Regions from separate parts of the Homo sapiens genome. Here region 1 is linked to region 2. Evidence: fine-mapped expression QTL. A gene starts in region 2. The other region holds a variant in brackets. All regions are shown on one strand. Distances are from middle to middle. Region 1 holds the start of LINC01988 (long intergenic non-protein coding RNA 1988). Region 2 holds the start of ZNF35 (zinc finger protein 35).

Region 1 (5,383 bases), 220 kb after region 2:
GTACAGACTTTGTCAGACAATTTAAAAGCTTTCCCAAGAATAGGAGAGGGCTCATAAGCTGTCCCAAGTGAATTTCTAGGTTTGAACAAACCTTCAGTAAGAAACACGGTGGACACCTCCAAGTCATCCTCTCCTGACACACGTTTGCCAAGGTCCATTTCCTATGAATTGATAGGTTCTATTAGTTTTTATTTATTTATTTATTTTTTGAGACAGAGTTTCACTCTTGCTGCCCAGGCTGGAGTGCAATGATGAGGTCTTGGCTCACTGCAACCTCCGCCTCCCTGGTTCAAGTGATTCTCCTGCCTCAGCCTCCCAAGTAGCTAGGACTACAGGCGTGTGCCACCATGACTGGCTAATTTTTTGTATTTTTAGTAGAGAGGGGGTTTCACCATGTTGGCCAGGCTGGTCTCAAACTCCTGATCTCAGGTGATCCATCTGCCTTGGCCTCCCAAAGTGCTGGGATTACAGGCATGAGCCACTGTGCCCGACCGGTTCTGTTACTTTTATAAGGCATGAAGGGATAATCCTTCCTGGTGAAATCTGAAAGTCCTTACCTTCTAGGTTACTGAGGTTTCGAGGTCTGGGCAGCCGATTGGCTGTCTGATGTGAGGTGGAGAAGATGGGCCTGGTCAAAGGGGCAGCCTTTGGATTGGAACTGGATGCCCAGTCTGTCTGGGAGAAGGAAGGCAGTGAAGGGAAGGACCACGAAAAGGAGTGGCAGAAGACTGGCAGTCCCTTCACCCCACAGCCCTCTGCTTCATTCTCTGGCAGCTGTCCCTGACCTTTGTGACATCGAGGTCCCAGCCAATCACAGCACTCACTCCTGCTGTCCCAACAGCCTCCAAGGCAAATCTCTGGAGACTCCACCCACTGAGCTCCTCCCCTGGGGTTCTCTAAGCACTCTGAATTTGTGGACAAAAGCCCCTTTACTACCAGCATAACTACATACTTCACTTTCACAAGTTGGCATGCCTGGGTGAGGGCAATTATTTTAGTCATATGAGCTTCGATTTCTGGGAGAGTCAAGTCAATTCAGTTTTTGAGAGTGCTCTATATTTCAAGGGTGAATTTATATCTGTTATTTTACTTTATTTATTTATTTTTGAGAAAGGGTCTCGCTCTGTCATCCAGGCTGGAGTGCAATGGCATGATCTCGGCTCACTGAAGCCTCCGCCTCCTGGGTTCAAGCGATTCTTGTGCCTCAGCCTCCCGAGTAGCTGGAACTACAGGCGTGTGCCTCCACGCCCAGCTAAGTTTTGTATTTTTGGTGTAGAGATGGGGTTTCACTATGTCGGCCAGGCTGGTCTCTAACTCCTGGCCTGAAGTGATCCACCTGCTTTGGCCTCCCAAAGTGCTGGGATTACAGATGTGAGCCACCATACCCGGTCAAAATTTTTTATTTTAAATAAGTTATGGAAATGATGAAAACATTTCATTTACAAAATAAATGTGGGCCGGGCGCTGTGGCTCATGCCTGTAATCCCAGCATTTTGGGAGGCCGAGGCGGGTGGATCACCTGAGGTCGAGAGTTTGAGACTAGCCTGGCCAACATGGTGAAAACCCATCTCTACTAAAAATACAAAAAATTAGCTGGGCATGGTGGCACACACCTGTAATCCCAGCTACTCGGGAGGCTGAGACAGGAGAATCGCTTGAACCTGAGAGGTGGAGGTTGCTGTGAGCCGAGATTGTGCCACTGCACTCCAGCCTGGGGACAGAGTGAGGCTCCATCTCAAAAATAAATAAATAAATAAAATTAATGTAGGAAATTTAGGAAGTTTGAATTATAAGAAATCTAATTTTGGTCTGGAATAAGCCAAAATATTGTACTAACATTTTTTAAAAAAATAAACTAATAAGGAGTGAATCATGCTAACATTTTCCTTTATTTTGAAGTTGGCGTCTTTTCTTTTGTCATAGCTAGTTTAAAAGGTTATCAGGGAAATACATTTTCTAGTGTCCATAAAAAATAGTTCAATAACTTTTTTCTTTAGACAATTTAGACTTTACCTGAACTAAAAATTCCTAGAATATATGCATAACGGCTGAATGTAATTTTTGTTAAGTCTTTCATTTTGTTAAGTTTTCAAAAGAGGGAAAAGGAGAGGAAATGGGATAGAAAAAAAATGAGAGGGAGCTGGCTTTAGACAAATAACTAATCATTTTTCTCTGTAAGAAGAGGGATGAAAGTTTAGACATATATACAATACACACACGAGAGTGTCCTATATCTGGTTTTGACATAATTTCAGTTTGTGACAATTCTATCAAGCCATACAATTTTTTAAAAGCCAGAATGTATTAATCTCCAACTTATGGAAAGGAAGGAAGTGATGCCTCCCTGTGAAACAAAATGATCTGTCATTTAGGCAAACAAGACAAAGATTTTCCTCATGAGGGGTCTTTTATTCTTGATATCCAGAGTCTCCTTAAAATGTTTAGCCAAGCCCAGGTGCAGTGGCTCATGCCTGTAATCCCAGCACTTTGGGAGGCCAAGGCCGGTGGATCATGAGGTCAGAAGATCAAGACCATCCTGGGTAACATGGTAAAGCCCTGTCTTAGCTAAAAATACAAAAAAAATTAGCCGGGCATGGTGGCGGGCGCATGTAACCCCAGCTACTTGGGAGGCTGAGGCAGGAGAATGGTGTGAACCCGGGGAGGCAGAGCTTGCAGTGAGCTGAGATCACGCCACTGCACTCCAGCCTGGGTGACAGAGCGAGACTCCATCTCAAAAAAAAAAAAATGTTTAGCCAAATATTGATGTTTATGCAATAGAGTGATTTGCCAGCCAACATTTTTGTTTACCCAACATAGTGACAGTTTTGGACCTGAAGCCTTTCACAAAATGTGGCAAGGGCATTGGAAATGTCAACATTTTAAAGATGCTTGGTCGGGCACGGTGGCTCATGCCTGTAATCCTAGCACTTTGGGAGGCTGAGGTGGGTGGATCACTTGAAGTCAGAAGTTTGAGACCAGCCTAGCCAACATCGTGAAACTCCATCTCTACTAAAAATACAAAAATTAGTTGGGCGTGGTAGCACAGGCCTGTAATCCCAGCTACTCAGGAGGCTGAGGCGGGAGAATCACTTGAACCTGGGAGAAGGAGTTTGCAGTGAGCTGAGATGGTGCCATTGCACTCCAGCCTGGGCAACAGAGTGAGACTCCATCTCAAAAAAAAAAAAAAGAAAAGAAAAAAGAAAAAAAAGATGCACATGAGGGAAAAGATGCT[C/A]CTATTTCATATTAGTTATAGCTAAAGAATATTTTAGAGAAGCATTTTTTGAGTCCAAATTGTGTTTAGGAGCCTCCTCATACCAATTAAAGACAGCAGACCATTGGATATTCAGAATTTTGCTTTGTTTTTGTTTTGTATATATCAGAGTTTCCCCAAAGTGATCACTATAATTCTAAATTATCTTTGGGGAAATTGTACCAGTTAGAAAGCTATGCACATGAAGGGAGCCGGTGTTTGGCCTGAAAGAGGCTGAGTTTTCGATAGAAAAGACTCCATGGGAACTTCAGCGTGTCCACAGGGTGGTACTTGTGTGACACTGCGTCTTGGAGCCAGCCAAAGACTAACCAGCATTCAGGGTTGTCCAAGGCTTGGAAGACAAAGCCCTCAAAGCACACTGATCAAGAGCTGGACGCCATGGTGGGGGCAATAAGCTCTTAAGCTTGCCAATATTCACAGCAAGGGGGTTTCCAAGATCAGCTGGGGGAAGGTAATGGAATGAGTTAGAGTTTCCTGGGGAAACTGCCCCTGTGTGGACCGAGGTGGAGAGGCCCTGGGGAGGAAGGGAGGAAGCACACCTGGCCTCACCAAGCACACTGCCAGAGCAGGTGAGCTGAGCCAGGGAGGGAAGAGGGGACAGAGGCTTCTCCTTCACCTTAGCAATGGCCTCATGCTACGGACAGGCCTGCAGCAGTCTCTGGGAAGGCCCAAGGCTACTAGCACCAATGGGGAAAGGCTGCTGGGCAAGCCCCTGGGGGCTGGGAAGGGATTCATTTCTCACTAAGCTCCAGCAGCCCTGTGGACTGCCCCACATCGGGTGGGCACCATCAGGCAGGTGAGGAGAGGAGAAAAGCCTGCTTGGGTGACCTGGGGCCAGCCCAGGAGGACGACTGTTCCATCTTCTGCCAGCACCATGGGCTGGCTCCATGGGACACACAGCAGCCGCTGGGTCCATAGAGTGGGGAACGTGGTGAGGATTCAAGGTGGGCCTGGGCTGGGCAGTCCCAGTAAGCAGCTGGTGACATGGGGAGCTGCATCTAATTCTCAGGGAGACCAGGGTGTGAAGAGGGTGTGAGGCCCAGCAAGCCAGACCCAGGGGAGTAGGGAGGGGATCACAAGATGTTCCTGATCCAGGTAGCCCTGGCTACCATTATACTGAGCACAAACCAACCTTGTCAGAGGACATTGCCCCTTGTTTATAAATTTGGGTTCTAGAAAAAAACCCCGATGCTGTTTTTTGGAGCCATGTGATGGGACTGCTGGAAACCAGGCAGGGAAAGGCAATGGCAGGCACACTTCCAGTTTTGGGGCATCAGGCACTGTGACAGCGAGGATGGTGCAGGGGTGAGTGGGGAGCTGCCCTGCAGGGGTCTGAGATCACCAGGCAGAAGCTAGGCTGGGATAGGGCGGGAAACGCATTACACAACAAAGATTAGATTGCAGGGGCCCCAGCCTTCTAATGCCCCTCCTGCTCTCTGAAGCTCCCTCCACAGACTCCTCCACCCCAGAACCTTCCGACAGGTAAGCTTCAAACCCTTCATACCTATCCAGTTCCCTAGCTCCTGGCCAGCCTCTAACTGTTCAGCCCCCGAACCCCCTGTTTCCACCCACCCTGAACCAGGGGATCTCTGCAGGTTGTGCTGACTCCCCCATGGCCTTGTGGCCACCAGGGGATGCTGGGGAAATCCTCTCCACCTGAGCAAATCAGAACTTCCTGTAGGACACAGGTGTCAGGATCAGCTTCTGGTTGAGCTGGTTGATATTCTAGGTAGCGCACCTTGAAGTTTCTCAGGATTGACAGTCATTGTGTCTGTTCTAAAGAAGGTGAAGGAATTTGATGGAAAGAAAGTAGGAAGAGTCGCCCAGACTTGCAGGCTGCCTCCTGTACTTATTCTGAGAACGTGTTCACATGGCATAGGCGTTTCCTTTTGTGGCCATTTGTAAGAATGGGAAATGAATGACTTTTTTTTTTTTTTTTTGAGACGGAGTCTCACTCTGTCACCCAGGCTGGAGTGCAGTGGCGTGATCTCGCCTCACTGCCAGCTCCGCCTCCCAGGTTCACGCCATTCTGCTGCCTCAGCCTCCCAAGTAACTGGGACTACAGGCCCCCGCCACCAAGCCAGGCTAATTTTTTTGTTTTTTTTTTAGTAG
Region 2 (5,383 bases):
AGCTGGGCGCTGCCCTGCAGAGGTCAAACCCCATCCAAGCTTTATGTTTCAAAAGCTTCTTCTTGAGTTTCTTCCCAGGGCCAAGATGAGTACTGCCTACTGAGAAATCAGAAAACACTGTTAGCACCAAGGAGAGATTTGCTGGATGCCACTTAGCAAATTTGCCGGATGCCACACCGGCAAATTTCACCAGCGCCTGGCCAGGGGCCAATGTAGGACATGGAATCCTCTATTCCTCCCTCATAGGATGAAGGGGTTGGACTATAAATATGTAATATCTTCCCATAATAACCACATTGCAAACAGCTTTATATAATGTTTATTGATTTTTTCCTGATTAAAAGTTAACTTACTTTTATTGTAAAAACTTAAAAGCAGCAAATGATTAAGAAAAATCATCTCGGTCTACCTCCAAAGAGATAACCACTATACATTTTAAGATTTAAGATATTTCTTTCAAAGGAAAATCTCCAACCATACTACTAATAATTATGATTTTACAAATTCTTGTTTTTGACTTTGGGGATACATATTTTCACAATTATCATCATAGCATTTTTTAAAAAAGGATTTTACAACAAAAAGATTTTTTATTGCCAAGGATACAAAATAATGTGAACAAAAGGATCCCAAGAAAAAGACTGGGAGTCTTTATACCAACGTGTTAGCAGTGGGTAGTTAACTCTGGATGGTGTAATTACAGGTAGTTTTAAGGTTCTTTTCATTTTTTTTGTTTGATTTTTACATTTTCCATAGCTTCCAAATGTCCTGTGAGATAAAATATTACACTTAAGATTTAAAAAAAGATTACTTTCATGTTGCCATTCTTCATGCTTATTTTAAATGCTACACAATAACCTATGGTGTTGATAAATCTTCACTCTCATTGAAAAAGGATCAAGTAATACAGAAATATATAGAATTAAATATATAACCTACACACACTACACACACACACACACACACACACAAAGTACTTATCAGTTTAGATGGGAGTCCTAACCCATTTTCTCTGCATTTACATACTTATATGTTCACCTTCACACATATTGCTTATTTTTCAAAAACATACTTTAGATCATCACAGTTATATACTGTTCAGCAACCTGCATTGTTTTTTAACTCAATTTCCGTATTTCACAATAGTCTTAACAATCTTTCAATACAACACATATAGAACTACCTCATTCTGGCATAGTATTCTAAATTGTGGCTATATTATCATTTACTTAATCATATTCTATTTATGAACCATTTATTTAGTAAAAGTTTATATTTCCATTTTATTAATATTTAAAAGTTTTTCTTTGTAAATATTTTTTTTTTGCTGAATTATTCCTTTAGAATAATCAGAGAATTACTGGTTCAAGGATTTGCTGGTTGATATGTACTGTCAAATTGCTTTCCAAAAGCACCATGCCAATTCACACCCCCACTAATTGACAGTAACCCTTTATCACAGCTAAGCCAGCAGGGTTTTTGTTTTTAACCTGTGAGCAAAATAACCTTACTAGTTTGATTGCTTATGAAGAGATTGAAATTTTTCTTTCTAACCCCCTTTGAATGTTTTATTGGAAAAGGGTGCGAAATCTTATTCAATCCCCTGTTGCTGCTATTGAAGTGATCATACTCTTTTCCCCATGTCAACTTACTGGCCACTTACTGTATACACTGAATTTATTAAGTAATGCAATACTTTCATTCCTGTGACAAACCTTAATTCTGGAGGACTATTCTTTCCATCACTATCCGAATTCAATCTGGTATGAAGGTCCTTAAGACTAGTTCCACCTTGTGTATAAGACTGCCTACAGTGAGTACTCTCATCAGACTTCTGATCAGATTCTGACGGACCTCCGGTCCCAGACGGCACAGGGCCCTCTATCAAAGGCTCCCTTTCAACGTCCTTTCTCTATTTCCAAACGTGGCAATCCATTCTTTCCACGTATAGGCTCCTCGCGGCCCTGTCCCTGGGACCTATCTGGCCCCTTGGCCGGTCCGTGTGCATCCTCTCCCGGACCAGGCCCCAGGTGGGCAGCAGCCGGGATTCCGAGGCGGTGGGGAACTCACTGCCCCCCGCACCCCGACAGACAAGGCTGGTGTCCCCGGGGAAAGGACGCAGGGGCCGCTCCTAGGGCCATGGCCCCTGGGAGAGCCCCTTTTTCTCCCTCGACGTTCGTGCCCACCCCCTCCGACCCCACTCACTGTGCGCAGCTGAGAAGCCCGACCTGAGTTCACTGGCTCTGCAGCAGGAGGCTGGCTGACCGGTACTTCAGCTTCTACCGGCACGAGAACAATGACCGGACAGGAAGTGCCTCGGGATGGGCTTCCGGCTCCCCAAGTCGCCAAGCCGGCCTCTCTAGGAACCTCGGAGGTGCTTTCCTCTCGATGGGTGTCCAATGTCGCCCCAGACCAGGGATGGGGCAGAAGCGCTTAGGAGGATTGTGCTGTTGGAAGCTCTAAGTGAGCCTCAGGGAGGGGCGCATCCCAAGCAGGGATGAGACACTCAGGCGAGGCGCGCACCCAAGAGCCTGAAGCTACACAGCATTAATCTGTAGAAAGCCCTGATAATTTCCCCTCAAATGTTTTATTTTGAAAATATCAGAGTACAGAAGAGTTGAAAGTATGGCACATTGAATACCCGTATTTTCCATGTGGACTCAACAATGAACATTTTGCTATGTTTGCCTGATCTCTCAATACATATTTAAAATCATTTTTTTGAAAGTTGTAAACATCAGAACACTTCATTCCAAATACTTCAACATGCATCCCTTAAGATTAAGAATATTCTTCAAACTACCACCACCGTCACAGGTAAGAAAATCAACAAAAATTCCCTAATACCATCTAATAACCAGTCATATTCAAATTTCCCAACTGTCCTAAAACATGTATTTTATAACTTTTTTTCAAATCAGTTTCACACACTTTAGTTGGTTACAGCTCTTTAGTTTTGGGTTTTCGTTGCCATTGTTGGTTTTTACTTTTTATTTTGAAATGATAGAATCACAGGAAGTTGCAAAGATAGCACCCTTCACCCACTTTCCCCTCATGGTTACATCTTACATAAAATGAAAAAGGAAATCAACATTGGTACAGTATGTGTGTATAGGTATAGCACCTATAGATTTGTGTAACCACCACTGCAATCAAGATACACAAGTGTTCCATCACCACAAAGACCTTTCTGGTGCTACCTTTTAATAGTTCCATCCAACCCTCTCCCCATTTTTCCTCCCACCATCCCTAACCTTTGGCAACCATTAATCCATTTTTCATCTCTATAGTTTTATCATTTTGAGAATGTTATATGAATATTTTCATACAGAATATGGCCTTTTGTGATTATTTTCACTCAGCATTAATTCCCTTGAAATTTATTTGAGTTGTTATGGATATCAATAAGTCAATTTTATTGCAGAGTAACAAGTATTCCATGGTAATACATAAACCACAATTTGTTTTAACCACCTAAGGAAGGATATATGGGTTGCCTACAGGTTTCGACCATTACAAATAAAGCTGCTATGAACATTCGTATACAGGTTTTTGTGTGAACGCAAGTTTTCATTTCTCTGGGATAAATGCTCAGAAGTGCAATTCCTGAAGCATGACATATACATGTGTGGTTTTACAAGAAACTGCCAAATTATATTCCAGAGTGGCTGTACCATTTTACATTCCCAGCAATGTATGAGATCCTGTTTCTCTTCATCCTTGCCAGCAGTTACCACCATTAAAAAAAAAAAGTTAAGCTATTCTGATAGGTGATATCTCACGATTTTACTCTGCATTTCCCTCATGCCTAATGATGTTGAACATCTTTTCATTTGCTTATTTGCTATCTATACTTCAGTGAAATGTCTGTCTTTTGCTTATTTTCTAATTGTATTTACTTATTACTGTTAAATTTGGAAAGTTCTTTATGTAGTTTACATACAAATCCCTTGTTGGATATGATTTGCAAATATTTTTTCCCAACCTGTAATATCATCTTTGTAAAAAGGTCTCTTACAGGGTAAATTATCTTAATTTTGATGAAGTCCAATTTAACATTTTTTTTCCTTCTAAGGAGCATGCTTTTGAGTCATCTGAGCCTTCTTAGCTCAGTCCTAGGTCCTGAAGTTGTTGGTTTACTGCCTATGGATATCCAATTACTCCAACAGTATTTGCTGAAAAGGCGATCCCTCCTCCATTGAATTGCTTTTGCCCCTGTCAAAAATCAATTGGCCATTTATGTGAGTCTATTTCTGGTTCTTAGTACCTAACGGCTCTCTAGTATTATCTTTTAAAAACAAGCCTCCTCATCCATGTTTTATACCTTTCATATCGAAATTTTCATACATACACAAAAGCAGAGAATGGTATAATAAACTCACAGCAGACTCAAGACAGCTTGAACAATTTTCACTCCCCTCTCTTTTTCATCATAATAATATTTTGAAGAATCCAGGGCAGCTTTCTTATGCAATATTCCACGTTCTGGATGTGTCTGTTTCTCGTGGTGTCTTTTATTTGTTCCTCTGCCTCCTGTATTTCCTGTAACCTGGCAATGAGGTCCAAGAAGCTTGATTAAATTCAGGTTGAACATTTTTCAGCTTATTACATCACAGAAGGTGGCACATTATGTGGGCTGTCTCAATCTAAGCAATGTGACATTTTGTTACTCGGTGAAGAGGTAAATCACAGCATTCTCCATTGTTAAAGTACATATGTCCTTTGTAATTATTATATAAGCTGGGATGATTCAACAACCTGGATGAAACATTTTTATATTCATTATCTCATAAGAACTTTGTGAGGTAGATATTCTTCCTCCTGTTTAACAGATGAGGAATTCAAGGCTCCAAGAACTGAAGAGATTTTTTCTGAGGCAGATGGCAAAACCTGAACCACATCCAGGTCTTAAGACTTTAAGCCTTAGGCCCCTTCCAGTTTTCACTCTTGGCTACCTTTCACTCTAATGAGGAACCAGCCCCCAAGAAACTGTGGGGTTGAATTAATAACATTTATGATAATCAACACACCACTTTGACATTATTAAAAAACACAATCTTCATATTCAGGTATTATTCATAGTCCAGCTACAGAAACAGAACTTTGAGAATTACAACATAAAAATTACCAACTTAAGAATATAGACTGAGTTAAACCCACAAATGTACTCAAGGGCACAGAATGGTTCACAGGGGGTAATGGGCACTGACTGCCCACAAGTGGATTCTGCACTGGCTTAATCAGTGAAGAGCTTGGCTCCATGTGAAAAATTTATGTCCCAGTAAATTTAGTGCTGGGACAGAATGTTGTTTCATTAGTAACAGGCTATCATTTGACAGCAATGATGAAATATTGATTAGAATTCACAATGACTGTGGCAGGG

The links. PIP is the estimated chance that this variant, and not a neighbour inherited with it, causes the effect.
Region 1: its variant is the best candidate, but not a certain one, in a credible set for the expression of ZNF35 in whole blood (INTERVAL, PIP 0.76).

Annotation. Positions count from the first base shown.
Region 1 is chr3:44,423,333-44,428,715 of GRCh38, reverse strand. It overlaps LINC01988 (long intergenic non-protein coding RNA 1988), which reads right to left and starts at 794. Exons shown (of 4, transcript NR_144436.1): 1 at 558-794; 2 at 92-161. It also overlaps the pseudogene C3orf86P. RefSeq lists an enhancer at 3,733-3,872. The variant C/A (reference allele first, on the strand shown) is at 3,233.
Region 2 is chr3:44,645,657-44,651,039 of GRCh38, reverse strand. ZNF35 (zinc finger protein 35) reads right to left here and starts at 2,308. Exons shown (of 4, transcript NM_003420.4): 1 at 2,206-2,308; 2 at 1-99. It overlaps ZNF660-ZNF197 (ZNF660-ZNF197 readthrough), which reads right to left. Exons shown (of 8, transcript NR_147692.2): 8 at 2,569-5,383. ZNF197 (zinc finger protein 197) reads right to left here. Exons shown (of 6, transcript NM_006991.5): 6 at 2,569-5,383. The region is part of intron 2 of ZKSCAN7-AS1 (ZKSCAN7 ZNF cluster antisense RNA 1); the gene reads left to right. RefSeq lists enhancers at 1,826-1,935, 2,016-2,185, 2,064-2,623.